6 linked regions of the Homo sapiens genome follow. The protein of the gene in region 3 interacts with the protein of the main gene of each other region in a pairwise test. Each region holds a gene or a part of one and is shown on either strand. Other genes may lie near its edges. The genes, in order: RNF4, MORF4L1, ZBTB26, CARD10, SOX5 and PBK.

What was found.
Region 1: the proteins of ZBTB26 (region 3) and RNF4 interact in binary tests that used the Homo sapiens proteins (3 or more experiments, as listed by UniProt).
Region 2: the proteins of ZBTB26 (region 3) and MORF4L1 interact in binary tests that used the Homo sapiens proteins (3 or more experiments, as listed by UniProt).
Region 4: the proteins of ZBTB26 (region 3) and CARD10 interact in binary tests that used the Homo sapiens proteins (3 or more experiments, as listed by UniProt).
Region 5: the proteins of ZBTB26 (region 3) and SOX5 interact in binary tests that used the Homo sapiens proteins (3 or more experiments, as listed by UniProt).
Region 6: the proteins of ZBTB26 (region 3) and PBK interact in a two-hybrid assay, tested with the Homo sapiens proteins (2 studies listed by BioGRID and IntAct).

What each region holds. Positions count from the first base shown.
Region 1 is NC_000004.12:2,501,570-2,507,105, reverse strand, and holds part of RNF4 (E3 ubiquitin-protein ligase RNF4), read right to left. Parts: intron 1-5,536. UniProt on the Homo sapiens protein: E3 ubiquitin-protein ligase which binds polysumoylated chains covalently attached to proteins and mediates 'Lys-6'-, 'Lys-11'-, 'Lys-48'- and 'Lys-63'-linked polyubiquitination of those substrates and their subsequent targeting to the proteasome for degradation.
Region 2 is NC_000015.10:78,885,618-78,891,153, reverse strand, and holds part of MORF4L1 (mortality factor 4-like protein 1), read right to left. Parts: intron 5,014-5,536; coding exon 4,927-5,013; intron 3,886-4,926; coding exon 3,805-3,885; intron 166-3,804; coding exon 140-165; intron 1-139. UniProt on the Homo sapiens protein: Component of the NuA4 histone acetyltransferase (HAT) complex which is involved in transcriptional activation of select genes principally by acetylation of nucleosomal histones H4 and H2A.
Region 3 is NC_000009.12:122,920,236-122,925,771, reverse strand, and holds part of ZBTB26 (zinc finger and BTB domain-containing protein 26), read left to right. Parts: intron 1-5,536. UniProt on the Homo sapiens protein: May be involved in transcriptional regulation.
Region 4 is NC_000022.11:37,490,649-37,495,461, forward strand, and holds part of CARD10 (caspase recruitment domain-containing protein 10), read right to left. Parts: intron 3,541-4,813; coding exon 3,438-3,540; intron 2,155-3,437; coding exon 1,996-2,154; intron 1,903-1,995; coding exon 1,787-1,902; intron 1,220-1,786; coding exon 1,107-1,219; intron 746-1,106; coding exon 511-745; 3' UTR 1-510. UniProt on the Homo sapiens protein: Scaffold protein that plays an important role in mediating the activation of NF-kappa-B via BCL10 or EGFR.
Region 5 is NC_000012.12:23,532,867-23,538,402, forward strand, and holds part of SOX5 (transcription factor SOX-5), read right to left. Parts: intron 3,804-5,536; coding exon 3,587-3,803; intron 1,657-3,586; coding exon 1,353-1,656; 3' UTR 1-1,352.
Region 6 is NC_000008.11:27,808,084-27,812,466, forward strand, and holds the end of PBK (lymphokine-activated killer T-cell-originated protein kinase), read right to left. Parts: exon of another isoform or gene 3,085-4,383; coding exon of another isoform or gene 3,052-3,084; coding exon 2,875-3,051; exon of another isoform or gene 2,419-2,874; coding exon 2,222-2,418; 3' UTR 1,541-2,221; downstream 1-1,540. UniProt on the Homo sapiens protein: Phosphorylates MAP kinase p38. Seems to be active only in mitosis. May also play a role in the activation of lymphoid cells.

The sequences.
Region 1 (5,536 bases), on a different chromosome or scaffold from region 3:
GTGACTTATTCATACATTATAGAAACAGACCAAAAAAAGATTCCAGAAAAATCAACCTTACTAAGAGACAATCTTTGGAAATTTAAGAAAAACAGCCTAAGTAACATTTTCAATAACCTTCCCCTTAAAGAATCTCGATTCCTTAAAGAGAGTTGCCAGTCTCTTTTCTACCACTGCATTGCTTCTAGCCAGAGCAGAGACTGGCATACTGAAAATGCTCATGAAAAGTGACCCAAGGTCAGGCTCAGTGGCTCACAACTACAATCCCAGCACTTTGGGAAACCAAGGTGGGAGGATCACTTGAGCCCAGGAGTTTGAGACCACCCTGGGCAATACGGTAAGACCTTGTCTCTCCAAAAAAATATAAAAAATCAGCCAGGGATGGTGACATACCCCTATAGTCCCAGCTACTTAGGAGGCTGAGGCAGGAAGCTCAATTGAGCCCAGAAGGTACAGGCTGCAGTGAGCCGTGATGGCACCACTGCACTCCAGCCTGGGTAACAAAGTGAGACCCTGTTTCAAGGGAAAAAAAAAGAAGAAGAAGAAGAAAAAAAACAAATTTGGAGAAAGCACACAACTTGGAAAAAAAAAAAAGATTATTTGCTGTTAAAAAGCAACCAAGGAGGCCGGACATGGTGGCTCACGTCTGTAATCCTAGCACTTTGGGAGGCTGAGTCAGGTATATCACTTGAGGCCAGGAGTTCAAGACCAGCCTGGTCAACATGGCAAAACCGTCTCTCCTAAAAATACAAAAATTAGCTGGCCGTGGTGGTGTGTACCTGTAATCCCAGCTACTCAGGAGGCTGAGACATGGGAATCGCTGGCACCCTGGAGATGGAGGTTGCAGTGAGCCAAGACTGTGCCACTGCACTCCAGCGTGGGCGACAGAGCGAGACTCTGTCTCAGGGGGGAAAAAGAAAACAACAAATGGTTTGCTTTGTTCTAGTTCAATTTTTTCAACGATTTAAAAAGTTTATAGGACTCAAGGAACCAAAACTGTATCTGATGGCCTCAAGGGTTATGTTTGAAGGCTTGCTGACTTGCAGAAAACTCAAGCTGACTGTTCAAGATGTTCAGGGCAAAAACTGCCTAGCTTCCATGCGTGGGTCTTACCCATGACAAAATGTGTTGTGTGATTTAAAAATGGCAGACCACCCGGGTGGATCACTTGAGGTCAGGAGTTCGAGACCAGCCTGGACAACATGGCAAAATCCTGTCTCTACAAAAAATACAAAAATTAGCTGGGCGTGGTGGTGCATGCCTATAGTCCCAGCTACCCAGGAGGCAGAGGCTGCAGTGAGCTGAGATCACGCTACTGCATTCTAGCCTGAGTGACAGTGAGAAACCGTCTCAAAAAAAAAAAAAAAAAAAAAAAAAAAAAAGGCAGACCATGATTGAAGCTCATGTTGATGTCTAGACTACCAATGGTTAAAGAAAACCTCAGCACCAACAGGTCTAAGATGATGGAAATCATGACCCAAGGCCGGGCGCGGTGGCTCACACCTATAATCCCAGCACTTTGGGAGGCCGAGGCGGGCGGATCACGAGGTCAGGAGATCGAGACCATCCTGGCTAACATGGTGAAACCCCGTCTCTACTAAAAATACAAAAAATTAGCCGGGTGTGGTGGCGGGCACCTGTAGTCCCAGCTACTCTGGAGGCTGAGGCAGGAGAATGGTGTGAACCCAGGAGGCGGAGCTGGCAGTGAGCCAAGATCGCACCACTGTACTCCAGCTTGGGCAACAGAGCGAGACTCCATCTCAAAAAAAAAAAAAAAGAGAGATGCAGACAAATAACTTGAAAGAAGTGGTGGAGAAAATTATTCCAGACAGCACTGGAGAAGACACAGAAATGCCTGCAAATCTATTTATCCGCTCCACGATGTCTTCTCTGTGAGGAAAGTTAAAATGCTAAAAACACTCAGGTTTGCATTGGGAAAACGTAGGGAGCTTTGTGGTGAAGACAGCAGTTCTGGAAAAGCTACTGGGATGAGCTAGGTACTAAAGTGAAAAGTCCTATTTATGATGAAAAAAGTTTATATACGAAAGTTGCATAAAAAAAAGCTATGTAACAGCCAGGTGCAGCGGCTCATGCTTATAATCCCAGCACTTTGGGAGGCCAAGGCGAGTGGATCACCTGAGGTCAGGAGTTCAAGAACAGCCTGGGCAACATGGTGAAACCCCATCTCTACTAAAAATATAAAAAATTAGCCTGGCATGGTGGTGCGTGCCTGTAGTCCCAGCTACTCAATAGGCTGAGGCAGGAGAATTGCTTGAACCCGGGAGGCGGAGGTGAACTGAGTGAACTGAGATCGTGCCACTGCACTCCAGCCTGGGTGACAGAGTGAGACTCTGTCTCAAAAAAAAAAAAAAAAAAAAATACAAAAAATGAGCCGGGCATGGTGGCGGCTGCCTGTAGTCCCAGCTACTCTGGAGGCTGAGGCAGGAGAATGGCGTGAACCCAGGAGGCAGAGCTTACAGTGAGCCAAGATCACGCCACTGCACTCCAGCCTGGGTAACAGTGCAAGACTCTGTCTCAAAATAAATAAATAAATAAATAAATAAATAAATAAATAAATAAAAGCTATAAAACAAAGAAGTTTTAAACAGGCACTTCACAAAAGAGAAAAATAAACATGAAAAGGTGTTTGATCCCATTTGTAATAAAAAAGCACAAATTAAAACCACAATGAGACACCACTGGACAAGCATCAGAATGGCTAAAATTAAAAGTGGCCATGAGGATGTGGAGAACCTCAAACACTGGCATGAATGTGAACTGCTCCCTCTTTAGAAAAGTCTGGCATTTATCCAGTAAAAATCAAAGACACTCACACCTCGGGACACAGCAGTGATGCCTTTTCTAGGCTATGCAATGCCAAAAATGAAAGTTCATTTTGAGGGAAACTAATCAAATGAGATGAACAAAGTCTCTCACTGCATCTTACCGCATTTTTCATTTCCCTTCATTTTTCAGGGGCTTTGAATTCCTTCGAAAGTTGGAAGAATGTGCACACCTGTATGCAAAGTTTCCAGTCTTTTTTTCTTTTTTGAAGAAGACAGGGTCTCACTATGTTGCCCAGGCTTGCCTTGAACTCCTGAGTTCAAGTGATCCTCCTTGCTCAGCCTTCCCAGTAGCTGGGACCACAGGCACAAAGTTTAGAGGGTTCCCTGATGTTCTGACGGCTACCTCTGGATCCTGGTATCCAGGGATTCCTATATTACAGGTACAGAGCTACTGGAGCTAAAGCAGTGCACTCAAACTATTCGACAGGTCCTGGCGGAACTGGTAAGGAAGGTTACCCCGCTTCCAGAATGAATACATTTATCCATTTTATACTCTCCTGCAGGTGCAGCCTAGGGTCACCCTGAACACACGATCCATCTACAGATGCCCCTTATCCTCAGTGACTAGCATTAGAGGCCTCCCAAACAGATCTGCTCAGAGGCAGAATTCCAAACTCAAGTATATGTCTCAGTGTAAATTCATAAACTGGCACTTGGACTTATTAAAATCAAAAATAAGTAGAGAATGATTAGCAAGAGCTATCAAGTCCAAAGCAGTTATTTTGTGGCTGACAACACTGAGGACAGTGTGAGATAAATCCACTGATCAAACTGACCAGTAGATCTGAGAGACCAGAACCTAGGACTCCTGCTTCCCAAGCCAGGAGCGTCTCCCTTTTACCTATCAGCTCTCCCTCTGGCCACCCATCCACTTTCCAGGGTAGCTCCCTCAACACCAATATTCCTGGTCCCCGGGTCTCCCAATGACTGCAGATCTTATAAAGGTTAACCAGACAGCCCCAGGTTAATTGGGAGTAGGACTGCCAACATGGAGCCCTAGCCCAGGGAAACAGAAGAAAGGTAGGGAAGTTCAGAGAGGAAGCCCTTTTAGCAAGAGCAGCTTAGTCATCAAAACAAAACAAAGCTGGCCAGTGTGGTGGCTCACACCTGTAATCCTAGTGCTTTGGGAGGCTGAGGTGGGTGACTGCTTGAGCCCAGGAGTTCAAGACCAGCCTGGGCATCACAGTGAGACCCTGTCTCTACAAAAATATTAAAAAATCACCACCACCACCCGACCCAAATTTAGTAGTGTATGGTGGCATGCACCTGTAGTCTCAGCTACTCAGGAGGATAATGTGGGAGAATCACTTAAGCTCAGGGGTTGGAGGCTGCAGTAAGGTGTGATCATGCCACTGCTCTCTAGCCTGGGCAACAGAGTGAGACCCTGTTTCTTTTCTTTTCTTTTTTTTTTTTTTTGAGACAGAGTCTTGCTCTGTCGCCCAGGCTTGAGTGCAGTGGCGCGATCTTGGCTCACTGCAACCTCCGCCTCCTGGGTTCAAGTAATTCTCCTGCCTTAGCCTCCCGAGTAGCTGGGATTACAGGTATGCATCATCACACCTGGCTAATTTTTGTATTTTTTTTTTTTTTTGAGATGGAGTCTCACTCTGTTGCCCGGGCTGGAGTGCAGTGACGTGATCTCGGCTCACTGCAACCTCTGATTCCTGGGTTCAAGCGATTCTCCTGCCTTAGCCTCCTGAATAGCTGGGACTACAGGCGTCCGCATAATTTTTGTATTTTTAGTAGAGACAGGGTTTCACCATGTTGGCCAGGCTGATGTCAAACTCCTGACCTTGTGGTCCGCCCACCTCGGCCTCCCAAAGTGCTGAGATTACAGGCGTGAGCCACCGCGCCCAGCCTGAGACCCTGTTTCTAAAGCAAAAGAAAACACAAGTGTGAAAGGGGAAATGATGTTGGTTTGTCAGCCAACAAAAGCCAATCAATCATTGTCTTCCTGCAGTCAAAATCCTAGCTCTCTCCTCAGGGTCTGGCAGAGAGAAGGCCAAGAAGACTGTGGTGAACACTGAGTATTCAAGAAAAACAAAAAACAAAAAACAAAAAAACTTCTGCAGACACCACTTTCCAGCTTTAATGAGCAACTGGTGAAACCAAGGTGTCAGCTGGGAAAAAGAAAGAGGGGAAAAATCAGTGACTGTGCTGTAGCTGCCAGCTAATATACCAAATTAGTTATCTTTCCAGAACTCCATGCAGGACACAGGGATGATAAGCAAAGTCATATGTGTGTATGTACCTCAGAAAACACGTTAATGAGACCTAAGCAGGGACCACGTACAACTAAACCCACTGCTGCTTATCTCAGATGGTTTTCCATCCCTGTCCTTTTCTTTGCATTGAAGTCTTGAAACTTCTCAGTATAACCCTATTCTGAAGTTCTCAGCACAACTAAGAAGCAACACCTATGGGGTGTCCCTATTCAGATACCCAGGCATCAGCCAAACAGGATAACCCCAACACCAGTGAGCCCAGGGCCAAGGCGAAGACTCAGCTACTAGCAGCCCCCACACCCCACAGTCCTCCTCAGCAGCACTTACCACCCCACTGCCAATGCTGCCAAGTGTGCCCCCACCCCGACCTGTGTTCCGAGCACACTGTCAGAAAACACTCAAGTGGCATCTTCCAGAGGCAAACTTGCCCTTAAGATGCTGACCAGATTCCCAGACCTGCATGCACCA
Region 2 (5,536 bases), on a different chromosome or scaffold from region 3:
TTTATAACACTGCTGTGAGACTCCTATTTGAGATAATCAATAAACATAAGCTTACTCCAAAATTTCATAGCTTTCAAAATAAAAACGTCAATGTCATAGAGGTAACATAAATTAACGTTAAGAAAGTTAATATTCTTACTTTTCTGTTTGTTCTTTTTCGTTTTCCTAAAAGGAGAGAAAAAAAAGAAAAATAATTATTTCCAGTAAAACTGCCTCTGTTTCAACTCCCTTTATCAGGGTTAAGTTCACAGAGAAATACTAACTTGGATAAAGGATCAGGTGGTAAATATGTGTCCTACTCAGACACAAGGATTTTTATTGATAGTTGGTTAAATTCCCATCTCTCTCCACATAATAGAAAAAAATAAACCAAGCCAGGCGCAGTGGCACATGCCTGTAATCCCAGCATTTTGGGAGGTGAAGAGGGGGTGGATCTCTAGAGCTCAAAATTCCAGACCAGCCTGGGCAACATGGCAAATCCTGTTCTCTATAAAAAATACAAAAATTAACTGGGCATACTGGCAAACGCCTATAGTCCCAGCTACTTGGGAAGCTGAGGTGAGAGGATTGCTTGAGCCCAGGAGGCCAAGGCTGCAGTGAGCCTTGATTGCACCACTGCACTCCAGTCTTGGTGACAGAGACCCTGTCTCAAAGACAAAAAAAAAAGAAAAGCAAACCAAGAACACTTTAGTAAACAACTTCGTTCTTCCAGGGTTATATTAATATATGTTATAGTATATACTACATTATTAGGCCCACCAAAAAAAAAAGGTGTCAAAGGTTAAAATTTTTTTCCAATTATTTTTGTTCCCCAAAATATTTTTAGATTTGTGTAATTTTTTTGTTTTAAGTCTCCTCATCTTGATTATCATCTCTAACAGCAACTTACCTCACGTCACTTATATACTGTCAAATGGTAAATTGCTAATTTTGCTTTATTTATTTATTTTGAGATGGAGTCTTGCTCTGTCTGTTGGGTGATCTCGGCTCACTGCAACCTCCTCCTCCCGGGTTCAAGCGATTCTCCTGCCTCAGCCTTCCAAGTAGCTGGGACCATAGGCACCCACCACCACTCCCAGCTCATTTTTGTATTTTAAGAGACGGGATTTCACCATGTTGGCCAGGCTGGTCTCAAACTCCTGACCTCAAGTGATTCGCATACCTCGGCCTTCCAAAATGCTATTACAGGCGTGTGCCACCATGCCTGGCCTAATTTTGCTTTTTTACATTATTATTTCTAGACCACAAAGGAAACAGTTTATAGAGCCCATGATTATGGATTACTTTCGATGGAAAGATACTATAACACCTGGATTTTTTACTTTTCTGTAGCTTTAAATAATACTTATAAATGTTATTAATTAAATATATTCATTTAATTTAGGTCTTAAGGTTTGACAATTCAAATTAACTTATGTTTGGATATAAACACAAAAATCTGTGTATAGGTTTTCTCTTGTCTGTTAGTTTTGTAAAAATCTGTTGGACTGTATTTCTCGGTCAAAGTCAACCATGAACTTTACTTGCACGTGTCAATATGTGGAGACCAAGAGAAACCAATAGTCTTCACACTCAATCCTTTACCCACTCACCTCTGTAATATAAAACTAAAATACTGACAGGTGATCTCAACTCTAAAGTAAAAGATCTATAAAATATAGATGAGTTCAGCATCCCAAAGCCAAAATGCTCCAAAAATCCCAATTTTCTGAGCCAACATGACATTCAAAGGAAATGCTCATTGAAGCATTTTGGATTTGGGATGTTCAACAGGTAAGTATAACGCAAACATTTCAAAATCCAAAAAAAGTCTGGAATCTGAAACGCTTCTGGTCCGAAACACTTCAGATAAGGGATATTCAACCCATACACTTCAATAAGTCCTAGTAGTAAGAGCTTGACATTCATGCTTCAAACGTCTAGACTGAGGATCCTTCAAAAGACTCAGAAGCCAGTTTGAAGAGGCTTCTACTGTTCAAGAATGGGAAATTTAAATTTTAAAGCTTTACTTCATATATTTACTCAGCCATTATTTTTGTAGTGGAGACTGCACAATGCTGTATTCAAATGCAAATAACTTATGGGCATACTACCACTTAAGATTTCTATATAATAACTTAGCACAGTGATAAAGAATTAGTTATGAACTATTACTTTTGATAAAAATCTTTTCTATATAGAGAAAATTACTGCCTTTTAAGACATAATTACTATTAAATCCTAATGAAATACTACACTACAGTTTTCCAAAGAACCAGATCATGAAAACATGTTACCACTTATTAAAACTATGAACAATCCTCAAATAGTAACACACTTAATCCTTGCCAATTATCTTCTCACCAAAAAGAGTTTAAAAAAAAATAAAAAGCTTCAAACATCTCCAAATGCATTAAATACTAAATACCTTCATTAGTAACACCTTACTTTTTTTAAGAGGCTGGAGCGCAGTGGTGCAATCACAGATCACTGCAGCCTAGAACTCCTGGCCTCAAGCAATCCCTCCCACCTCAGCCTCCCAAAGCACTGGGTGTAACACCTTACTTTTAAGTAGAAAAATCAGATCAGTAATTCTGGTAGGAAATAAAATGACCTCTTAATAAAAGTTATAATTTTTGTTTTTATTATTACAAATACTTAAGAATACTTATTAAGTTACCACTCTTGTCATCCACTTTCAGGTACATCAACTTTTTTTTTTTTCTTTTTAAAAGACAGGATCTCACTCAGTCGCCAAGACTAAAGTGCAGCCTTGACCTCCTGGGCTCAAGTGACCCTCCCACATCGGCCTCCTGAATAGGTGGGACTACAAGCATGTGCCACCACCCCCGAGCTAATTTTTTTATTTTTCTGTAGAACCAGAGGCTCCCGATGTTGCCCAAGTTGGTCTCAAACTCCTGGGCTCAAACCATTCTCCTGCCTCAGCCTCCCAAACAAAGTAGGGGGATTACAGGTGTGAGCCACCGCACCGTCCTACATAAACTTTAAACATACAAAATGTATGCATGCACATGACTTTCTCACTCTAGGCTTCTTATCAGATGTTCTAAAATCTAGAGTTAACAAGAAGTAATGGTTTTGTGCCAGGAGCAGTGGCTCACGCCTATAATCCCAGCACTCTGGGAGGCCAAGGCAGGTGGATCACCTGAGGTCAGGAGGTCAGCCTGACCAACATGGTGAAACTCCATCTCTACTAAAAATACAAAAATCAGCCAGGCGTGGTGGCACACGCCTGTAATCCCCGCTACTTGGGAGGCTGAGGCAGGAGAATCACTTGAACCCAGGAGGCAGAGGTTGCAGTGAGCACAGATCACACCACTGCACTCCAGCCTGGGCAACAAGAGGGAAACTCTGTCTCAAAAAAAAGCAATGGTTTTCTTAGGGGTGGGGATGAGGAGGGCAGTTATTTGAAACCTTAACTTCTCACATATTCTTACCATGAGTTTCACCAAAGTGGAGGTTAATTCGTATGTATTTTTAGCACTTGCCAGCACTTGCTTTTTAGGTTTGAAAAGGCTTGCCAAAAGTTATCTCAAAACTTATAACCACTAGTACTATCTTTGTAAGAGAAAACATCACACACATATATTTATACACACAAGTTAAAGGGAGGGGGAACCTGCTGAGGAAAATTAAGGAATACGTTATTTTAAACTACTTTAACGACCTGATACCTGAGGAATGGGATTCTTACTGGTTCCAACAATGTTCCAAAGTTTCCACTTCAACACAGTCTAACACACAATGAACATAAAATATTATCTTCACATATAGTATGCAAAATCAAAACAAAGAGCTTCTTACACTTCAACATTTTTCTGTTGCAGACCAGATGTCTTCTTTCCTGGGGCAGCCCCTCTCATCTTCCCCTCTGCATACTGCTCCCTTCAAAAATAATTTCAGTAATGTCAACATAAAATGAGCATTTATGTGAAAAAAAAATTGTCAGCCTGATTCCATTAGGAATTTACATTCAAATTCTGGCAACAAGTTTTTAACAAGTTGGACAGAGATATTTCCACAAAAATCAAACAAAACACTCAAGAAACAGCAAAAGGCTCAATTAAAATCAATGTAATAAAAAGTGACTGTAATAGACTGTTCTCATAGCATTGAAAATTCCATTTGTTTTGGAATTCACTAATCCCAGTGTTTTATTTGTTCCCATTACCATTTTAATTCTTTTTTTTTTTTTTTTTGAGACAGAGTTTCACTGTGCTGCCCAGGCTACACTGCAGTGGCGCGATCTCCGCTCACTGAAAGCTCTGCCTCCCGGGTTCACGCCATTCTCCTGCCTCAGCCTCCGGAGTAGCTGGGACTACAGGCGCCCGCCACCATGCCCGGCTAATTTTTTGAATTTTTAGTAGAGACGGGGTTTCACCGTGTTAGCCAGGATGGTCTTGATCTCCTGACCTCGTGATCCACCCGCCTTGGCCTCCCAAAATGCTGGGATTACAGGCGTGAGCCACTGCGCCCAGCCATCGTTTTAATTTTTTTAAAAATACATTTCAACTTTGAGATTACCCTATAAATCATAGAGTCTTTCAGGGTCCCTTTTCCCGTGCTTTCAGAGATGAAAAGCAGAATAGGAAATGCCTCGTTTGCTTGTTTCCCCACCAAATTTGTCTTCCAGAGCCCCCGAAAATAAAGATTTTTATCAGTGAGTTCATACCTATAGCAATTTCCAACAACATTCTGCTGTTTTCTACCTAGGTCTAAGATAAGCTCAAGTAATGGCAGGTATGCTACTTCCTTTACCTAGATATGGCTTGATCGCTTGAAGTCAAAGCTGTAACACAGCAGCTGAAAGGTACCAGGAATCATTTTATAGGCAGGGCAGCCAACATGATCTCCATTGTTCATTCCATGTCCAGAATTAATCTACAGGCATTTCTCCTTAATATTCAGTTCACAAAACAAACTTACTGATTGGCTTTTTGAAGTTCTCGCTGTTTCTGCAAATTGGTGTCCACGTATTTGAGTACTCTGCTCTCCGGAACCCATTCATCCCAACTGAAAAAGAGGAAAGTTAAAATTTAACTCAAAAATACTCTGTTCTCCAACTAATTTTCTGAGATCAAGAGGCAAGACTGGATTTCTCTTAAGTAATTTGATGAACTGGCACTACAAATATATTCTCAACTAAAATGAAGATCTAATGGAAGTCTGTTCTGTAAAAAGGAAAACTTTTTATTTTCAAAAAGCAGCATTCCAAATCTAAGCTGCCAGAGTCCAAAAGCAGATTATTCAAATCATTTTTAGAAATGGCTTAAGAGTTTGGCACTTAATGTAAGATTCACTAAGTGATTAGTCTTATGTTATCTTAAAGACTTTTATTGTCAAAAATAAAGCACAGGAGTCAAAAACTCAGTTATTTTTAAAAATTAAAACCAGCTGTGTGTAATGACAAAGTTCCATATAGCTTTGTGTTTTCATTTCATTCTCTATGAAATGAGGATAACAACAGTACTTATCTCAAATAACTGTTATGAGAATACATGTAAAACACCTGAGAATCCCTGACACAAAACAACAC
Region 3 (5,536 bases):
AAAAAATTAGCTGGGCATGGTGGCAGGCACCTGTAATCCCAGCTACTCAGGAGGCTGAGGCAGGAGAATCACTTGAACCCAGGAGGCAGAGGTTGCAGCAAGCCGAGATCACGCCATTGCACTCCAGCCTGGGCAACAAGAGTGAAACTACATCTCAAAACAAGAAAAAAAAAATTGTACCTAGATTAGTTGTTTCATACCTGGATTTTGGCATCATGCAGTGTAAACCACCAGTTCCAGATCTAACACTTAACACTTTCAACCTCCGTTGGGGTTTACAAGTTATTTATGTTTTCTAAGCTTAGTTTCGTCATATACAAAATGTGGGATAATGGTAATACTTACCTGTAGAAATTTTCACGATTAAATGGGTCAATTTATTTATTTATTTATTTATTTATTGTGATAGGATCTGGCTCTTTCACCCAGACGAGTGCAGTGGCATGATCATGGCTCACTGCAACGTCTGCCTCGTGGGCTCAAGCCATCCTCCCATTCAGCCTCCCAAGAAGCTGGGACTACAGGCGCATGACACCACGCCCAGCTAATTTTTGTATTTTTTGTAGAGACGGGGTTTCACCGTGTTGGCCAGGCTGATCTCAAAGTCCTGAGCTCAAGCAGTGTGCCCACTTCAGCCTCCCAAAGTGCTGGAATACAGGCATGAGCCACTGTGCTCGGCCTAAATGGGTCAATTTAGGTATAACATCTATACCTGAAATGTAGCAAGGAAGATTAGGTATCATTTCTCTTATTTTTAAATAAAATTAAGATGGTTCATAAGAAACTTTTTTTAACTATCAAAAAAAATTTTTTTTAAGTGTTTAAAACAGGTTCATGCCTGTAATCCTAGCACTTTGGGAGGCCTTGTGGGAAGACTGCTTGAACCCAGGAGTTTTAGGTTACAGCGAGATTTGATTGCGCCACTACACTCCAGCCTAGGCAACACAGCGAGACCCTGCCTCTACAAAAAATAAAAACATTAGCTAGGTGTGGTGGTGTGCACCTGTAGTCCTGGCTACTCAGGAGGCTGAGGCAGGACGATTGTTTGAGCCTTGGTGCCAAGGCAGCAGTGAGCTATGATTACGCCACTGCATTCTAGCCTGGGTGACAGATGACAGAGTGAGACCTTGTCTCAAAAAAAAAAAAAAAAAAGAAAGTTGAAATTTGGTTTTATATTGCCAAAACTATTTTGGTAACAAACCCTAGAAAGAAAGCTTTCCCTAGGCACTCAAAAGAAGATATCATAATGAAGAGCATCTGTACCATAGCCTAGTAATAATTTCATGGGGGAACATTAAGAACTCATTATTCTTCTGTTTTTTGTCAAATGAGCTGTATAAAGTATAACAAACCATTGGTCATTGCCCTCAAATAACTAACAGTCTATTGGAAAGAGAAACTAGTGAAAGGAAACAATTAAGGGATAAGATGTGTGGCCTGGAAATAAGAATTTATCAGAGAGAGACAATAGAGTGGGCTGACACATCCTAGGGAAAACATCCTTTAAGAAACCAATAAATTTTGCTCACATTCTTAGACTACAGCAGACAGATCAAAGCAAACACTTCCCTGAACTATCTGGTTGGCTGCTGTTGTTGATAATTTTCTTGAGAACTGATGGATAGGAAGCACAGTCATGCATCACTTAACAACTGTGATGTGTTTTGAGAAATGCGTCGTTAGGTGATTTCATCATTTTGTGAATATCACGGAGTATACTTAATGCAAACCTAGATGGTATAGCCTACTACACACCTGGGTTGTATGACACAGCCTGTTGCTCCTTGGTTATAAACCTGTACCACATGTTACTATACTGAATACTGTAGGCAATTGTAACACAATGGTGTTTGTGTATCTAAATATAGAAGAGGTACAGTAAAAATATGGTATTATATTCTATGGGACCATCATTGTATATGCAGTTCATTGTTGAACAAAACACTGTCATATGACACATGACTAAATGAAACTACACTCCAGCTCTTCATCTTTAGAGCAAGGAACAATTGTCTCTGAGGATAGTTGTCTAAAGCATTGTGAGTACTGTCATAATATAGGTAGAACCAATGAATGCTTATTTTGGGGTGTGAGGAGGGAAATACTGATCTGAGGGTTTCATAGGCACCTTCAAAACCAGCTAAATGCTAAAAAAGAATGCCACTTTTGTTTGGCCACTTGAAACAGTCATTTTTACAACTCTGGTTACAAATTGGAACATTCATCACTCCAAATCCAAAATGAGTATTTTAAGCTACTGCAGTTGCTAAAAGTGACCAATGATAATAGTTTTGCTGCTTTAAATTACTGACATTTTCCCTGTATATCTTCTACATTTTCCCTTCATGTTTGATACTCACTGTCTTTTCTCTGATGTTTCATTTGCTTGTCTACATCGCTCCTCTCTCAATGCAGTTTTTGTATTTATTGTGATTATCGGTACATTCAAAATGTCATACAAGGGGAAAGATTATGCTTTGTTTGTGTTTTTATTAATATACTTATTACTTCTTCTTATATTGGTGCCACACCAGTTCCCCCTCCTAAATTTCACCTCTCTTTCTTTTTTTTTTTTCTTTTTTTTTTTTGAGATGGAGTCTTGCTCTGTTGCCTAGGCTGGAGTGCAGAGGCGCAATCTCGGCTCACTGCAACCTCCACCTCCCGGGTTCAAACAATTATCCTGCCTCAGCCTCCCGAGTAGCTGAAACTATAGGCGCCCGCCACCATGCCGGGTAATTTTTTGTGTTTTTAGTAGAGATGGGGTTTCACTGTGTTAGCCAGGATGGTCTGGATCTCCTGACCTCGTGATCCACCAGCCTTGGCCTCCCAAAGTGCTCACAGGTGTGAGCCACTGTGCCTGGCCGGTCACCTTCTTTCAATGCCATTCTCATTCAAATGAACTCCTAAATGTAGAATCTTTACACATTCCTTTTATTCATTCTCTATATCCAGTCAGTTACCAAGTTCTTTGAAATATCTTTTGTTATTTTTCCTTTCGTCTTATTCCCATTTTTATTTCTTTCTAGGCCATCATGGCCTCAGACCTGCAATGCTTCTGCAGACACTAAGCTGGTCTTCCTAACAACAGTTCTTCCTTACCACTGTCAAACTAATCTGATAGGTTCAACTAATGCAAACTGAGCACTTGCTGTGTATTTAGTGCAGTCTTAGGCGATGGGAATACACACTGATTTGAACAGAAGAGGGTTTGGCCAGTAATGGGACAAGCAATGTAGCTGCAATAAGTATAATATAATTCAAAGCAAAAGTAAAGAATATTTTGTCTTAGAAGATGCAAGTTCCCAGCATTAGATGGAGATACTTCCCCCTAATACCATGAAACTTGGAGTTTGGATGGGAAGGAATAAGTATTTAATAAAGTGTGTTGAGTGTTACAGTAGAAGTATGCAATGGGCCCAGAAGAGACAATTCTACTCTATTAAGCGGTCAGGGAAGGGCCTCTCAGAGAAAATAAAGGAGTCACAATTGTTTAGAAAGTGGTGTTTTTGTTTGTTTTATTTTACTTTGTTTTTTTAGACAGAGCCTCATTCTGTCACCCAGGCTGGAGTGCAATGGCACAATCTCGGCTCGCTGAAACCTTCACCTCCCAGGTTCAAGTGATTCTCCAGCCTTGGCCTCCTGAGTAGCTGGGACTACAGGCACGTGCCACCACACCTGGGTAATTTTTGTATTTTTCATAGGGACAGGGTTTCACTATGTTGGCCAGGCTAGTCTCGAACTCCTGACCTCGTGATCCACCCACCTCAGCCTCCCAAAGTGCTGGGATAACAGGCATGAGCCACCATGCCTGGCTTGTTTTTTGTTTTGGTTTTTGTTTTTGTGATGGAGTTTTGCTCTTGTTGCCCAGGCTGGAGTGCAGTGGTGCAATCTTGACTCACCACAACCTCTGCCTCCCGGGTTCAAGTGATTCTCCAGCCTTAGCCTCCTGAGTAGCTGGGACTACAGGCATGTGCCACTACGCCCAGCTAATTTTGTATTTTTAGTAGAGATGGGGTTTCTCCAAGTTGGTCAGGCTGGTCTTGAACTCCCGACCTCAGGTGATCCGCCTGCCTTGGCCTCCAGAAGTGCTGGGATTACAGGCGTGAGCCACCATGCCCAGCCTAGAAAGTAGTGTTTTAAACTAAGGAAACAAGTATCATTAGGTCTGGAGCCAAGAGAGAGCTGTTATGTATCAGGCATTAAGGAATAAGAATAAAACCTGGACTCTGCCATCAGGAGCTGATATCCATTGTTACAGAAGTTAAGATGATAAAGATTGGACTTTGGGGTCCAGATGTGGCCAGGAGAAGCTGGTTGTCTCATCTGACTCTGAACTAAGGGGTTGATTAATACATAAAATTCAGTGAATTTCTTGATGCACTGAGATTATAGAGCTATATCTCAAAGACAGACCTAGCATACCTACCAATCTCATAGAAGACTGGTATATAAAGAGAATGTCAATTCATTATGTCATTAGTTTACAGTGACTAGTGGACTGGAATTATCGTGTTGGCATGGCAAATTTATCTTTTCCCTTGAGAGAGACAAATGGGAAGCCAGGTTATGAGAAAATCATTTATGAGAGTATGGAATCAGAACATGGAGACTTTCACCAAAGGAATTGCTATATAAAGGAATCAGTATGCAGACAGTTTGGGGAAAGATACCTTCTCCATTGTTGAATGGGTTTTTCCAGTGTTTACCTTAATTATGATTGGGTTTCATTAATCAGTTTATATTCAAGAGGTTAGTCTTCATCCAGGAGACAACGGGAAGTCACTGAAGGAGTTTAGGCAGGGGTGGGGTATAATCAGATCTCTGTTTTTGAAAGATGTGGTGGTATGAAAACTGTATTAGAGGGAACATAAGCAGGAAGCCAAGGCAACATTTATGAATCAGTTCTAGTAGTCCACATAATGACTAATGATTGATAAATAGGGATAAAGTTTAAAGAACAAAATCTAATAGGGATTGATTCGATCTATGTTACCGCTACTCAGATTCCCACCATATAGCTCATGTCGTTTTTCTACATCAAGTATCTTATTTTCTTTATAAAGAAGTGTTCCTTAAAACGGAGTTTAGATTTTTCCAGAATGGACAGGACAAAGAACTTTGTCTTTGCCTAAACATTGTCCCGTTAGTTCTGTGACTTTCATTTTATTGCAGAAATACTTGTATGAATAAGTTCATATCAATTTAAACAGAAAAGGGCTTGGCCAGGAATTGGACAAGCAGTGTCAGTGCAGTTGTTTAAAATATAGAGCAAAGAAAAAGAGCAAAGGAACCCATGTTTGCTGTAGGTTCTCTCTTCTTCAGAGACCAGTTTTTACTGAATGATTCCAGAGAGGTGAAAATCTCCATATTAGAGTTCTGAAGTGGGGAGACAATTGCTTTTGCCTTAGAAGAAGCAGGTTCACAGTTTTATATAAAATAAGATAATTATTTCATCTTTACTTGTGTGGGTTATGTTTTAGTTTGCTTTAGAAACCTGATAGAATTCTCATTTGAGAAGTTAAAAGATACTCTTGGA
Region 4 (4,813 bases), on a different chromosome or scaffold from region 3:
GGCCAGGGAACACCCCAGTCCATGCATGGCTGAATCCACGAGGAGCGCGAGCTGGATGGTGGGAGTCACGCGGTAACGGGCTCAGGTCTCCTAGGAGCAGAACAGGCCCAGGTCCTCAGGAGACCTCGTGCCCAGGGCAGCGGGACAGACCTGAGCCTGCCCATGAGAACTTGAGTGTGCAAACCTGCGCACAGGTGTGAGAACAGACTCCAGGGCGAGTGTTTAAGGAGAAGACACAGACACACATAAGACCCACTAGTGGGAATGTGGAGACCCCAGGAAAGGTGGGGAGGCCCAGAGCAGCAAGTAGAGGGGAGTGGGCACTCTGTCCCGGGACTCCCATAGGCTCGGCAGGGCCAGAGACAGCCTTGGGGGTGAGAGGCCAGAGCCAAGGGCCCTGCATCTGAGAGTCCAAGGGTCTAGGAAGGCTCAGGGTGGGAGGGCCCAGCTTCACCATAGACACCAGGGTCCACGCTGGCTTGGGGAGAAGGTGCAGGTATCAGATGAGCCTCAGGCCTCACTGCTGCTGGGGCAGCCTCTGCTGCTGCCGCACTCCACCCACACGAGGCGGGCCTGCTCCTGCAGGATGCGGCCGCGCACCACCTTGGCCAGCTCCTCTGCGTGTCCCCACTCATGGGCGGGCACCTGCACCCAGGAGCAGGGCAGCCCCCAGAGCACCTGCTCTGAGCCACGGCACTGCCGCAGCAGCTCTGAGTCCCGCCAGCCCGGCCGGCCCAGCAGACCCCTGCCGAGAGAAGAGTGAGCAGCGGTCAAAGTGGGGGACCAAGACAGACAGAGAGACAGGGAGAGAGGGACAGACAAAGGGGGAAGAGTCAGAGAGAGAAGATGGACAACCAAAGAGAGACAGATGGCAGATGGAGATGGAGAGAGAGAGACAGAGAAGGGGAGGGAGAGACGGGGGAGGGAGGGGGGAGGGAGAGAGAGGGGGAGAAGGAGGGGGGAGGGGGAGGGAGAGAGGGGGAAGGAGAGAGAGGGGGAGGGAGAAAGAGGGGGAGGGAGAGAGAGGGGGGAGGGAGAGAGGCATCCTCAAGGAGGAAGCTCTCAGGTCCGAGTGCCCTGCCCACTGCCCCACCCACCCACCTCACCTGACTTCCCGGACATTCTTCTCAGTCACCTCCACGTGGATGACGATGGGGTAGATCTCGTTCTGCACCAGCTCCCGCACACCCCGAGCACCCAGCTCCAGCAGGCAGTGCTTCTGCTTGGAGGATCGAGGCTACAATGTACTCCTGGGCCACAGACATCAGCCTCCCATGCGCTGCCCCCAGACGGGTCCCCTATCACCGCCTTCCCAGATGCAAGTCCTGCCTCCCCACCCAGAGGGACCCTGGCAACGAGGAAGGAGCCCAAAAGTACAGACAAGAGGCCTGGGCTCATGGGGCAACCTGGAGATACAGACCTCCCCCTCAGGACCTAGGCCTCCCCACCCGGAGGATGGAGCTGACCCAAACCCACCCACCACCCGCCACCTTATAGCCGACTGCCAGCTCCCAGGATAGTGGCAAGTTCAAGGATAAGGATGTGTAGGTGAGCTGTGTCAGCCAAACACCTCAAGGGGGGCCCACATGCAGTCAACTGCCCCCACCCACCCAGGCAACAGGTGAGGAAACTGAAGGCCACAGGAGGGAAAGGACTTGGCCAGGGCCGCCCTGCCAGTGAGCAGCAGAGCATGGCCCGCGCTCAGACGCTGGCGCTCAAGCCCAGAACAGCAGCACCCGCTCTGGGCCACCTCTGTGAGCACCCCAGGCCAGCCCCCAGCACCCACCTTCCCAACAGACTCCTGGATGGCCCGGATCCTGCTGCCTAGCCCAGGGGTGGCAGGCTGAGCCTTGGGGGCTCCAGGCGCTGAGGATGGGCACAGTTCCTCCCCAGAGAGGCTTTCTGCACAGGGAGTGGAGAGGGAGAGATGAAGGATCCATGGGCCCGGCTGCCCAGAGGGGCACCCAGCCTCCCCTCCCCGGCACATAGTCTCACCCGCTGGGCACACTTGGAAGTCCAGCCGGGAGCTGGGCAGGTCTAGCAGGTTACGGATGAGCCGGGGCGCCAGGCACTCAGGCAACAGCACCACGGGCCGCAGGGCAGACACCAGTAGCGGCCGCACCAAACTGTAGGGTCTGAGGCTCCGCTCCGGCTCTGTGGCAGGGGAGGGGCGCAAAAGAGATAAGGGCACAGGCAGGCAGCATACCAGCTCGTCGATACCCCAAAACCCACCCCGCCACCCATCCCTTCCTAAGTCCTGCTGCTGCTCCTCCTACACATGCACACACACACACCCTTAGTAGGACCGACGGTGGCAGTAGGCTCCTCCCTGATTCTCTGCCTCATCCCTGCCCCCTACGGGTCATTCTCCATCCAGCAGCCAGAGAGGCTTTAAAAAGCAAATCAGATCATGTTAACTCCCCTGCTTTCAACACACCAGTGACTTCCCAGATTCTCAGGAATAAAAGCCACATCCCCCACGTGGGTGACACAGTCCTGCCTGAGAGCCTGGGGAGGCTGCCAGCCACTGACCCCACACCACCAGCCTCCACTCTCCCTTCAGCTGCGTCCAACCACAGGGCCTTTGCATGCCCTGGGGCTGCCCAAAGCCCCAGCCCTGCACCACTCAGCCCAGTTAACCCTTGCCCTCCCTTCAGAGCCTAGGTCACACCTTCCCTGGTCCCCAGACATCAGGGCCCCTGGCATGTGCCCCACGGCCCCCAGTTCTCCACTGCACACCTCACACTCTCTCATTGTGTTCATAGGTGGGATTATCTGACTCTCTACCCCCTAATTAGACAGCAAGCTCCATGAGGGCAGGGACAGTCACGTCCCCAATGCCTGACAGAGCTGGTACTCAATACTCACCTGCTGTCCCCAACACCCTCCAAGCACACCACACACAGCCATGCCTCTGTGCCTTCTGCCTGGAACGAACTCCTCTTTAACTTTGAAGGCCCCCGCGGAAACTCCCTCTCTTCCAGGAAGTCTTCCCTAACTACCCGCTCCTCTTGCCCCAGATTTGCTACTCCCTCATCTGAGCTCCCCCAGCCCCTTCTACCTGTCTGGCCTAAGGCCTCACCCTACTGCCTCCGGGAACCCCCCTGGGTCCTCACAGCACCTGCCACCACACACGTGTGAGAAGCACCACTACACACACTCTGCCAGAAAAGAACAAGCCAGTATGTGTGCAAACCCACAGTCACAGCCACGTCTGCATGCACCTCCCCGCAGGGTCTCCCTCAACCTTGGCAATCACCATGGCAGGTGGGGTGGTCTTGTCTCTCAGGCCCCCAGCATGACCCCCACTCCTGTTGGAACCCTCACAACAGGCCCTTCCAGGCCAAAGAGGCCACCCAAGCTAAAGGACACTCAGCTGCACACATCCCTGGACAATGGGAGCAACACGGGATACAGCTTTGCCCCCGCGCACTCACCTGCACAGGGCTCCAGCAGCAGCTGATCCGGGGAGTCCCCTGCAGGCGCCCCCACGGGCTTGGGCCTCACCAGCCGCAGCTGGTCCAGGGCTCTCTTCTTCAGCTGGGAGGGTGCAGGGACAGAGGAGCATCTGAGAGCTCAGCCCCGCCCCCTCAGGGAGAGGAGGAAACGGGACCCCTGGCACAGCGGGCCCCACTGCCACTGTGGTCCAGGCTTGCCAGAAGAGCCTGGGTCAGCAAAGATGTCCTTCTCCACCAGGCCCTCCCCTGCCCCTCCCCAGCCCAGCACAGTCCCCCAGGCAGATGAGAGCAGCCATCCCTGTGGCCCCCGGGAAGCCAGCCCGTCTGAGCCTGGTGGAGGAGCCTTAGGTATACCCCCCAAGCTACAGATGGGGAGACTGAGGCCCAGAGACCAAGAGGAACCAAATGTCACATACGAGGCAAACTTTAGGGTCTCTTCCAATGAATTAGCAATGTGACCTTGGTAGAAAAATTAATGAAACCAATAAAGATGGCACTGATTTTACCAATACCTGACAGGTCTCAAATGCCTACAACATGACAGACACTCACTAAGCCCCTGAGGGGCACTAACTCACGGAAGTCATCTCCTGCCACGCACAGCCTGACAGGCAGTACAACCCCCGCACTTTACAGATGAGGAAACAAGCCTCAAGGAAGGTTCAGGTGATTGTCCAAAGTCACACAGCTGATAGGTGGCAGAGCTGGGGTCGAATGCAGGCTGCCTGGCTGGGGCCCTCGCTCTTCCTTTATCTGATGGCTCTGAGCCTCACTTGCCCATGTGCACAGCAGCGCTGGCCACGAAGCCCAGCCACCATCCAGGCATTGGAAAAGGGGACATGACTGCTGGTTTGTTTTTTTTGTTTTTTTTTTTGAAACGGAGTCTTGCCCTGTGGCCCAGGCTGGAGTGCAGTGGCGCGATCTTGGCTCACTGCAAGCTCCGCCTCCCGGGTTCACTTCATTCTCCCGCCTCAGCCTCCCAAGTAGCTGAGACTACAGGCACCCGCCACCACGCCCGGCTAATTTTGTTTTTGTATTTTCAGTAGAGACGGGGTTTCACCGTGTTAGCCAGGATGGTCTCGATCTCCTGACCTTGTGATCCGCCCACCTCGGCCTCCCAAAGTGCTGGGATTACAGGCGTGAGCCACTGTGCCCAGCCTGTCAAATGCTTATTATGTACCAGGGGTACTCCTGCATACTAGGCACGCTTTACCTCATTTCATCTCTAAACTACCCTGGACGGTGAGCTCTGCTGTTCTGTTTGCTGGGCACATAGTAGATGACCAATTAAATCACCAGGGAAGGAGGGAGGGAGTGTCTTCCTAGGTTGCCAGAGAACAGAGCCTGCTAGCTCC
Region 5 (5,536 bases), on a different chromosome or scaffold from region 3:
TGGCCAAATATATTCAATGAAAACAATGATTGTTTTGCTCAAAATATCAACAGGAAAAACAAAAATCACTAAGTAGCAAACGTTAATGGAACCAACTGACCAGGGAGAAAGGACATCTGGGAGCAGTTTGCTAGTAGCTTCCATGTTATACATGCACACCTCTATTACACAGGGCCACCTGATCCATCCAATAATAATCAGACATTTAAAAATATAATTTCTGAGCCCTATACTTGGTTAAGTTGTCATTTGAAGTGCAAAGTCAAGGTCAAGATTATTTCTAGACCAGTCACTTGGGAGGATGTGGGATTTCATCCCCAGATGTGGGTTTAACTCACAATGGTCCAACGTTATTCCTATTATTAGTACCATAATCACATACATACATACACACAAAAATCCAAGATCAGAAAATATTTTTCTCTAAATTTCTTATGTCTCTCTCTCTCTCTCTCTTTTCACCTGAGAACAGCACCTACAGTTTCCATTAAAAAAAAAAGTCAAATCTCACCAGCTGCTGGTATTTCAGGTTTTTCAAGGGATTGTCTAAGATTTAACACTGTCCTAACTTAAGAAGGAAAAGGAAAAAGTAAAGAGAAAAAATGAACTTGGTCAACACTTCAGTACAAATTTGGCACTTGCTCAAAGATGTAGTGTGGTGTGCAATAGATAAAGTCCTCTAAAGAAAATAATTGCTTATTTTGTGGTGGATAGCAAGGAAGTTAAAAACAGGCTCTTTTTCCCTCTTTCCCCTCATGCACAGACTTCCATCTTTAAAGTAGAGAGATGGAGAAGGTGGAGAGAAGTAAAGAGAAATTCATTTTTCTTTTTTTTCTGTCAGGTGCATTACAAAGAAAAAAAATGAAAGGAAAGAAAAAGAAAAGGAAAAAACCCAGAAACCCCAAAAAACAAAACAAAACTTTTTTCTTTTTAAAAATTGTAGCACAAAACAACAAAACACATTCACAAGCCACTTGTTGGCACTGTGTACCTGAGTGAGAATTTCTAGAACATTGTAGAACAAACAGCCATAAAGTTTATTTAAAAAAAAAAAAAAGTTGACGGGTAAGACTTCAGTGCTTGGATGTAGCAGCTGAATTACTGGCATTATTTTACCCATAGCTTATTTCAATCTCTTGTTGTTGATATTGTTGTTTGCTTGTTGTATTTGTTTTTTCTTTCCAAGCCTTTTGAGGCTGAGGTCTATTAGTCAGCTGATGTCCCAACTATTTAAGACTAACAGTTAAAGTAACAGTCAGTGTATGAGAAAGTTAATGTGCTTGGCCACTGGTAAGGATGAACCAGTTAGGGCTTCTTTAAGTCCTAAGGTCACAACAATCTTTTGACCCTTATCAGTTGGCTTGTCCTGCAATATGGTTTTCACTGTCACTCCCATAATCTACATCTGGATCATCCTCTTCCTCGTCGTACTCATCATAAATTTCTCCATTGATGTCCTCGGCCTGTATCTCTTCTTTGATATGTGGCTCCTCTCCTTTCACACCGTAAGTGCTCTGGATAACAGGCATCCCAGGCTCTGGGCTGCTAGACACGCTTGAGTGCTCCGAGGGCAGGTGAGGGGAGGGCATCCCAGCCATGGCGATGGCTCCAGGGTACACAACACCAGCAGTGGCAATGGGGATCTGTGCTTGTTGCCTGTCAAGAAAGGAATTTCCAAAAAGACATCGTGGGTAAGTGAATAGTTAGATGTGGACTTTACTACATAATTAATTTGCTCAGCAATGTCCAATTCTAAGGTACTAATTTTATCTAATTGCCTAACATTTTTCAAACTCCATCCTACTTGAACTTTAATACCTTGTTTTTCTTTTCTTTTCTTTTTTTTTTTTTTTTTTTGAGATGACGTAGTTTCGCTCCTGTTGCCTAGGCTGCAGTGCAATGGCGTGATCTTGCCTCACTGCAACCTCCCCCTCCAGGGTTCAAGCGATTCTCCTGCCTCAGCCCCCCAAGTAGCTGGGAATACAGGCGCCTGCCACCACACCTGGCTAGCTTTTGTATTTTTAGTACAGACGGGGTTTCACCATGTTGGCCAGGCTGGTCTTGAACTCCTGACCTCAGGTGATCCACCTGCCTCGGCCTCCCAAAGTGTTGGGATTACAGGCGTGAGCCACCGCACCAGGCCTAATACCTTATGTTTAGGTAGTGCTTTATAGAGTACAAGATATTGACATGTGTTGTCCATCTTATTCTTAATCCTGTTTGTTACTACTGTTTTATTAAAAAACTGAGGTGCAGAAAGATGAAGCAGAAGAACCCAGGTCCTTGATTCCAAGTTCATTTTTCTTTCATTATAACATGCAGAAATAGTATTTTTCCCTAGAATTAAATCTAAAGATAATTAAATTTTAATGGGAAAATCCTAAAGCATTAGAGTTCTCAAAATAAAACTTTACTGCCCAGAACACACCAGAACTGAACAAATTCACACTGTCCACTGAGTCTCTGAAACAGTTCTGGCCTCGTAGTGGTAGGAAGCAGGAGCAGCTTCATGGATGTACAAACTGTGCAACTGCACTAAGGTCCCATACTTGGTTTAAAGTTGTGCTGCCACAGACTTGAAATTCTTAATAACTTTTTAACAAGAGACCCTGTCTCCTCATTTTTGCATCTGGTCCTATAAATAATGTAGGTGGTCCTATTGGAAAGGATGAATAGATGATGTGCATTTATGCTTGTTTTTATTCATTCGTATGTTTACTATTTGCCCAAGAACTGTTGGGCATTGTGTTTAGCTTTGTGAGGAGTCATGTGCTTGCATATGAATCACAGACCACTGGACAGAGCATGCAGCCTCTTCCAAGGAACTGGAGGGGACAGAGCAGATTTGGAAAGGTTTTATGAGTCCTTCTCTGCCCATATTTAGAACAATATTTATTATTCTAAGAAGCTCTTAGAAACTAACTTCTGTTTCAAATATGAACAACTTTATTTTGGGTTTTTGAGAGAATTCTATAGAAGCAATGCATTTCTGTAGCCCATCTACAGCACTGTCAACAACCTTGCCACGGGAGCATTGTAAAACATCTCGGAGCTGCGTTCTCAATTCAGAATGAAACCTCCTGTTCCCAACCTTGTTACACCCTAAATATAATCCCTAGCTTGTGTGATCCACAAAGGCCACACATGTACCTTGATAGCTCACTAACCTCTCTATATTTAGAAATAAGTATTTTTGCTTTTGAAATGATTTTTATTTTGTATTGTCTCAACAAAGTTGTTAGTTTTAGAATTTATCATGGTGAAGCTTAGGAAGTAATGCAAACCAATGAAGAAAAGAACCAGTTATACTTCTAAGTTTTTAATAGAAAACTTCAAAATCATTTGCTTGTAGATATCTTGTTTTTAAACCAGTTGTTAACAAATCTCATGGTAGAGCTAGGAACTTGCAGTGGATTCATATGGACATATTTTTCAAGATCATGTGGGAGACTATTTGTCTCTGAAAATACTGTGAGCTCAGATTCTTTTTCAAAATGTCTTTTTGCAACTGAACAAATATGTTTCACATCCCATTAAGTATAACAGGAAGTTTGCCCCATGAGAAAAATGACTAAAAGGTACATACCCAACATTGAAGTACTGCCGCATTTCCTGCCGCCTGTTGCGCATGATTGCCTTGTATTCACCAATGCGCAGCTTTTTGCCATCCACCAGGCAGGTGCGCTTTGGCCTGGGCTTGTACTTATAGTCAGGGTACTTCTCCAGGTGCTGCTTGCTGAGACGGGCTTGCTCCTCATAATATGGCTGTTTCTCTAGGTTTGTCATAGCTTTCCAGCGAGATCCTATGAAGAAAGGAGGTTAGGATTCCAATTTGCACAGCTTCTAAGCATTCCAGAAAGTGATATGGCTGAGAACAAGAAAATCTAAAGTTGAGATGTTAGCCAAAACCCAGAAATACATAAACCTGTTTTTGATTAGTGAGATCCCACAAGAACAGAGGTGGTGGTGGTTTTGTACCTAAAGATATAAACACTGGGCAGTATTTTTTTTTTTCTGGTTTGCATTCTAGCCAAACTTTTGTATTATGTCCCTTAAAGCTCATAGATAATTTAATGGATACATTTCTCATTTCTACATTAGATCATGATATAATTCACATGTGAACAGAAAAGTTACATGATATGTTATCATGCATTTTGAATCTGAGACTAATTATCTAGTTATTGAATATTTTTATGTGGGAGATGTTTTTTACTACAAAAGTTCCCAACATATATCATGTAGTCTCATCCTCCCCAAAATGTTTAAGTATTTTAAGCTTACAGGAATGGTAGTAATTAAAAATTCCTTTGATTAAACATTTAATTATAATTAAAATTATAATATTAATAAACATGGAGTGGGTAACTACTATGTGCCAGACACTGTGCTGAAACCTTGACATACTGATGTCTTTTTCCTACCTTTCACCTCAATCTTATAAAAGAGACAGCATTTCTATCTATTTTCATAGATGAGAAAATTGAGATTCAAATAGATGGACTAACTTAGCCAGGGTCATAATTACTGAAGTACAGATCTGTGACTCAAACTCAGATTTGATATAACTTAAATTGTGCTATAATGTATGCCCTTTCCTACATATGGCCACCTACTATACAAAATATAGCAGAGGTCACAATTACTGTAAATGCGTATTACGATTTTCTCTTAATAAATCAATTTCAATAACATACAAAGACGTCACTTCCCATGATACAGTCTGCTTTAGTAATAATAACCCAAATTGTTTTCCCCCTTTCTTTTCACTATTAATTTTGGTGTGAATTTAGCTGGGATTAAAAAAGACAAGTTTGAAGCTTAAATAAAAATAGTTTATGCTAATTCACATTTTAGATATGGTTTAAAACTTGGATTCTGTCAGTATGGCTATGTGTAATAGAAGTGGTAATGTGTCCGGAATTGGTGGGTTCTTGATCTCACTGACTTCAAGAATGAAGCTGCGGACCCTCGCGGTGAGTGTTACAGTTCTCAAAGGCGGTGTGTCCGGAGTTTGTTCCTTCTGATGTTCGGATTGAGAGGTGACAGCGTGCTGGCAGCCCTCAGTAGTAATAGCGTTTTTTTTTTTTTAATAGTGATTTAAAAATCTATTTGCAGATGAAGTGTGTTTATCTGCAAATAGTCATCTCAACTCAACGCGAATGCACAAAGACCGATAAACTGGAACTAGGATATCCCTACCAAATGGCCTTATACCTGCCTTCAAATGTCATCTAAGTAAGATCTTAGAATCTTTCGAATGAGTTCATTACTCACCCGTAACTCCCTATCTTAAATGCAAATAGCTCACTGTTGAATAGTTCTTCCTTACACATGTAAAGAGTTCCTCAATATGGGCTGTTACATTTATTAAAGCATACAGTGAAAGAGGCAATATCTCTTCCCTTAGAAATGTTACCATTGGAAGAGATATTGTATTGCATAGGTATAAATATAGATTTTTCCAAATCTAGAAAGCCAATGTGAATTTATTCTATTTACAGTATAAACTCAGGTTACAGTGCAAATAATAGAG
Region 6 (4,383 bases), on a different chromosome or scaffold from region 3:
TGTTTTTCCCAAATTCTTAGCTGATATATATAGCATTTTTTTATATATAGTTTTTATATGTAGCATTTGTCTAGTTTAAAATCCTTTCTAATTTTTATTCTAATCAACAGATTGTAGAAGATTAAATAGGTACCAGGAGACATGAAAGAATCATCTTCAACATTTCTCAAGTAGCTGCTGATTATCTCCTTTTATGGAGGCATAACAAGCTCCTGGAGGCTTCTACAGATTCTAAAGGGAAAGATTTCCTGGGAGGTGAGAAAGCCACTTGAGAGAAGGCTATTTTGATTTACTAATTAATTCAGTGTAAAGGTAGTCCTGGGCACGGTGGCTCACGCCTATAATCCCAGCAGTTTGAGAGGCCTAGACAGAGGTTGCTCAGGAGTTCCAGAGCAGCCTGAGCAACTTGGTAAAACCCTGTCTCTACAAAAAATAAAAAAAAAAAAATTAGCCAGGTGTGGTGGCACACACCTGTGGTCCCAGCTACTCGGAGTGGGAGGCAGAGGTGCAAGGATCACTTGTGCCTGGGAGGTTGAGACTGCAGTGAGCCATGATTGCCCCACTGTACTCCAGCCTGAGTGACAGAGCAAGACCCTGTCTCAAAAAAAAAAAAAAAAAAAGCCCTCAGCCAAGTCACATGTTGCTCTTTTGAGAATGAGGCAAATGTCCAAAAAGATAACATCTGAGACTTAGAGCAAGTTCTAGAACAAGAATAAAAAAAATTTTCTTCCAGTTGGTAGCAGATTGTCTGCAATCTTGTGTTGAGGATTTCTAGGACCTCACCAGACTCAAGGGGCAGTGCATGCTGGGATTATTTTGTAATGTCTACCATAGACAAGGGCTGTGAATTTGCTGGTCTTGTCCTTGGTATTAGTTTATTCCTATTAGATATCTCAACTGTAGGAAGTGGAAATAAATTTCTCAATGAAAAGCAATGGCTTATGTATTAAAGAGCCAATTCAAGAAAGATCCAGTTCCTGCTTTAAGTCTTAAAGCAGGAACTGCTATTCCTGCTAGGAAAAGAATGCCCTGGAGAAGCTGCTCTGTTGGCTTGGCAAAGAAGAGTGACACATGTCAGAGTGAGGATAAGAGACCCTATTGAGTATCAGGATGCAAAATTATACATACGTTTTTCTACAAATTAAGACAACTTCCAATTTACTTGTCACATTATTTTGATGGAATATATGCAAATTAATGTTGTGTCCTATTGCTTGGTACAATCTTATACCAAAAGGCCTTCAGTGATTTCTAGGCATTTTTAAAGTTCAGAGTGCAGTTGTTCCTAATGTTTCTGAGAACGCCCTGTGTCGGTAATTTTTAAAATTCTGTCTACACCCAAATGTAGGTATACCACCTACATTGGCAATTCAGTAATTTGGAAAATTCCCAGGGGACTGTGGCTTACAGAAACTACTGATCCAAAACACTTTATAGATTAGCAAAATAAGGCCAAGAGAGGGAAAGAAACCTCACATTTACTCAAGTTTAATGACAACACTCAAATCAATGAAGTATAAAATAATGCTGAGACACCTTCTGGTACCCAAAGTGTCCTTTATTCTTTATCATCCTATTTGAGTTTTATTGTTTTTACACAGCTGGGAAATGCTTAAGGTACAAATTAATAAATTTTAAACTCAGTATGGAAAATACATTTAATAAATTAAAGCAAAAACCAAAGATCTGAGGAGATCCAAGAGATCAAGACAATCTGTAACCAGAGTCTGAAGTATCCAAGGAGCTACTCTTTTTGAGGCATATTCTCCTCAGCTTCCAGTTATCATTTGATAAACACATCAGCAAAAGGTTCAGTGTTTTAAACAAATGTAGACTTTATTTTGTACTGTACAAAGTGCTAATGTCAGTAGATCCATTAAAATATAGAATATTTAAGAAAGATCATTAATAAAAGTAATGGTCATTCAATTTAATGTTACAGTTTACAGCGTTTTACTGCTAGTGTTTTAAGTCAGCATGAGCAGTATCAAAGTACTTATGTAGCTAGTTTCTAAAACTTTACAGAAAACCCAGTACAATTCCAAGTGCTTATAGCCAATATAAGCATATTTCATATTAGAAATAGTTATCCATATGTTAACAAGAAACTATGGTCCTCAAATATGCCAATTTTAGAGTCTAATAACTACTGATAGTAACTATGTAAATATTTTGGAATAAACAGTTATTTACGCAAGCCACACTTCAGCTGAGATGATCACTAGACATCTGTTTCCAGAGCTTCAACAATGTGTGCAGCAGAAGGACGATCTTTAGGGTCTTCATTAGTGCATACAGAGAAGAGTTCAATTACTTTCTGGTATGATTCATCCAGTTCTTCCATATTAATAGGTGGCCTAGTTCCCAACGCTGCATAGTATGCTTCATCATCAAAATCACTTTCATCAAAAGTTTTATCTTGAAGGAGTTAGAGATTGAAACAATAAACAAAATCACTTTATGTCATGGAAAAGTTTAATAGCTCACCCTTCTCCTGAAACAAGAATTTATGGTCCAGTATGCTTTCCATTCTGCCACAGACAGAATGGAAATGTCTTCAATTGTCCTGCCATCAAGTAGATTTGCTTTAGTCTTGGATTTATAGGTTATCGACCCCTACTTTTACCCTTCCTGTGATAGTTTTCCAATCAATCATTTTCTCAGGAAAGGGGAGTTTTTAAGATAATGTTTTGCTTCTCTGGATAGCCTCAATTTTTCTCCCTATTCTCAATCTATGTCTCATTTGTGTGAGATTAAACCTTGGTGGTACCAAATCAGTCATCAGTACTAATACATATCTTAGAAAGATAAAATTATATAATCTTTAGTGTGAAATGAAGAGATTGGGATTTATGTTAGAAATTGTATTCATACCTTCATCATCATCATCATTTGAAAGATTAATGTGTGGAATCGATAAAGTCATCATTTCCCACAAAGTAAGGCCAAAGGCAAATATGTCTGCCTTGTCAGTAATAACACCATTCTCCTCCACAGCTTCTTTGGGTTTCCATGGCTCTGTGCCAATGTAACAAGCCTCAGGGTCAGTCACTGAAACAAGCAAGATGGTTATGAAGGCAGGAGCTACAAATCACGAAAAGGCAAGCAACCCAAAGGGAAACAGGCGAACGATTTGAACAAGTAGTTCACAGGTTAATCAGTGTAGCCAGAAAATGTAAAAATACACTCAACCTCAATAAGGATTACTTTCTACCTTTCAGGTTGGTAAATATTCAAGAAGCTGGTCAGTTGGCAGGTATGTAGAGAAACAGCAATTCTCTTACAAATTAGTAGGAATATAGAATGTGGATGTTGAGATTACAGACTCTGGAGCCAGACTGCCTTGCTTGGGTTGGTTCAAAGACATGTGTGTGCAAGCTGCGTGACCTTGAGCAGATCACTTCTAGACCTGAATTTCTTCATTTTGTGAACAATATTAGGCTGAGAGAAGTACCATTTCTATGCTTCCATGATTGCTATGTCAAGGAAAAGGGAAAGGGACCAATCACACATAGGCTCTTTTTTAAAGCCCAAGAAAGAAATAGGTCCACTCACATTTCCATTTAAACTTGAGTCAACTTGTCAATTTCAATGAAAAAGCCAGCTAAAATTCTCATTAGGATTGGACTAAATCTCTGGATCAATTTAGTAAGCATTAACATCTTAATAGTATTGAGTCTTCCAAACCGCAGTCATATATTTCTCCACTTAGTTATATCTTACTGAATTTTCTCAGTGATGCTTTATAGTATTCATTACAGAGGTTTTAGACTTTTTTGGTTATTTATTCCGAAATATTTTGGGTTTTGGTACTTGTAAATAGATTTTAAACAATTCCATTTTCAATTATATACTGCTAATACACAGAAATGTAATCACTAACTTCACTATAGCTGTTTTATAGATTCCTTGGGATTTTCTACCTAAACAACATATCAACTGCAAACGGGGACAGTTTCGTCTCCTTTCCAATTTTGCCTTCTCCATTTTCTTGCCTTATTTTAGTGGCTAGGGCTATAGGACTGCTAAATAAAACTGGCAAGAGCAGGCATCCTGGTCTTGTTCCCTACTTCAGTATGATACCTGCAGGTTTTTCTTGTAGACAGCCTTTTTCAAGCTAAGATCCCTTCTATTTCTAGTTAGCTGAGAGGTTAACTAGATTTTAAACTAACTTTTAAATCAAGAATGGATGTTGGATTTTGTCAAACACTTTTTCGGTATCTATTGAGATATGTAGTTTTCAAATTTGATTAAAGACTTAAATGTTGGACCTAAAACCATAAAAACCCTAGAAGAAAACCTAGGCAATACCATTCAGGACATAGGCATGGGCAACGACTTCATGATTAAAACACCAAAAGCAATGGCAGCAAAAGCCAAAAC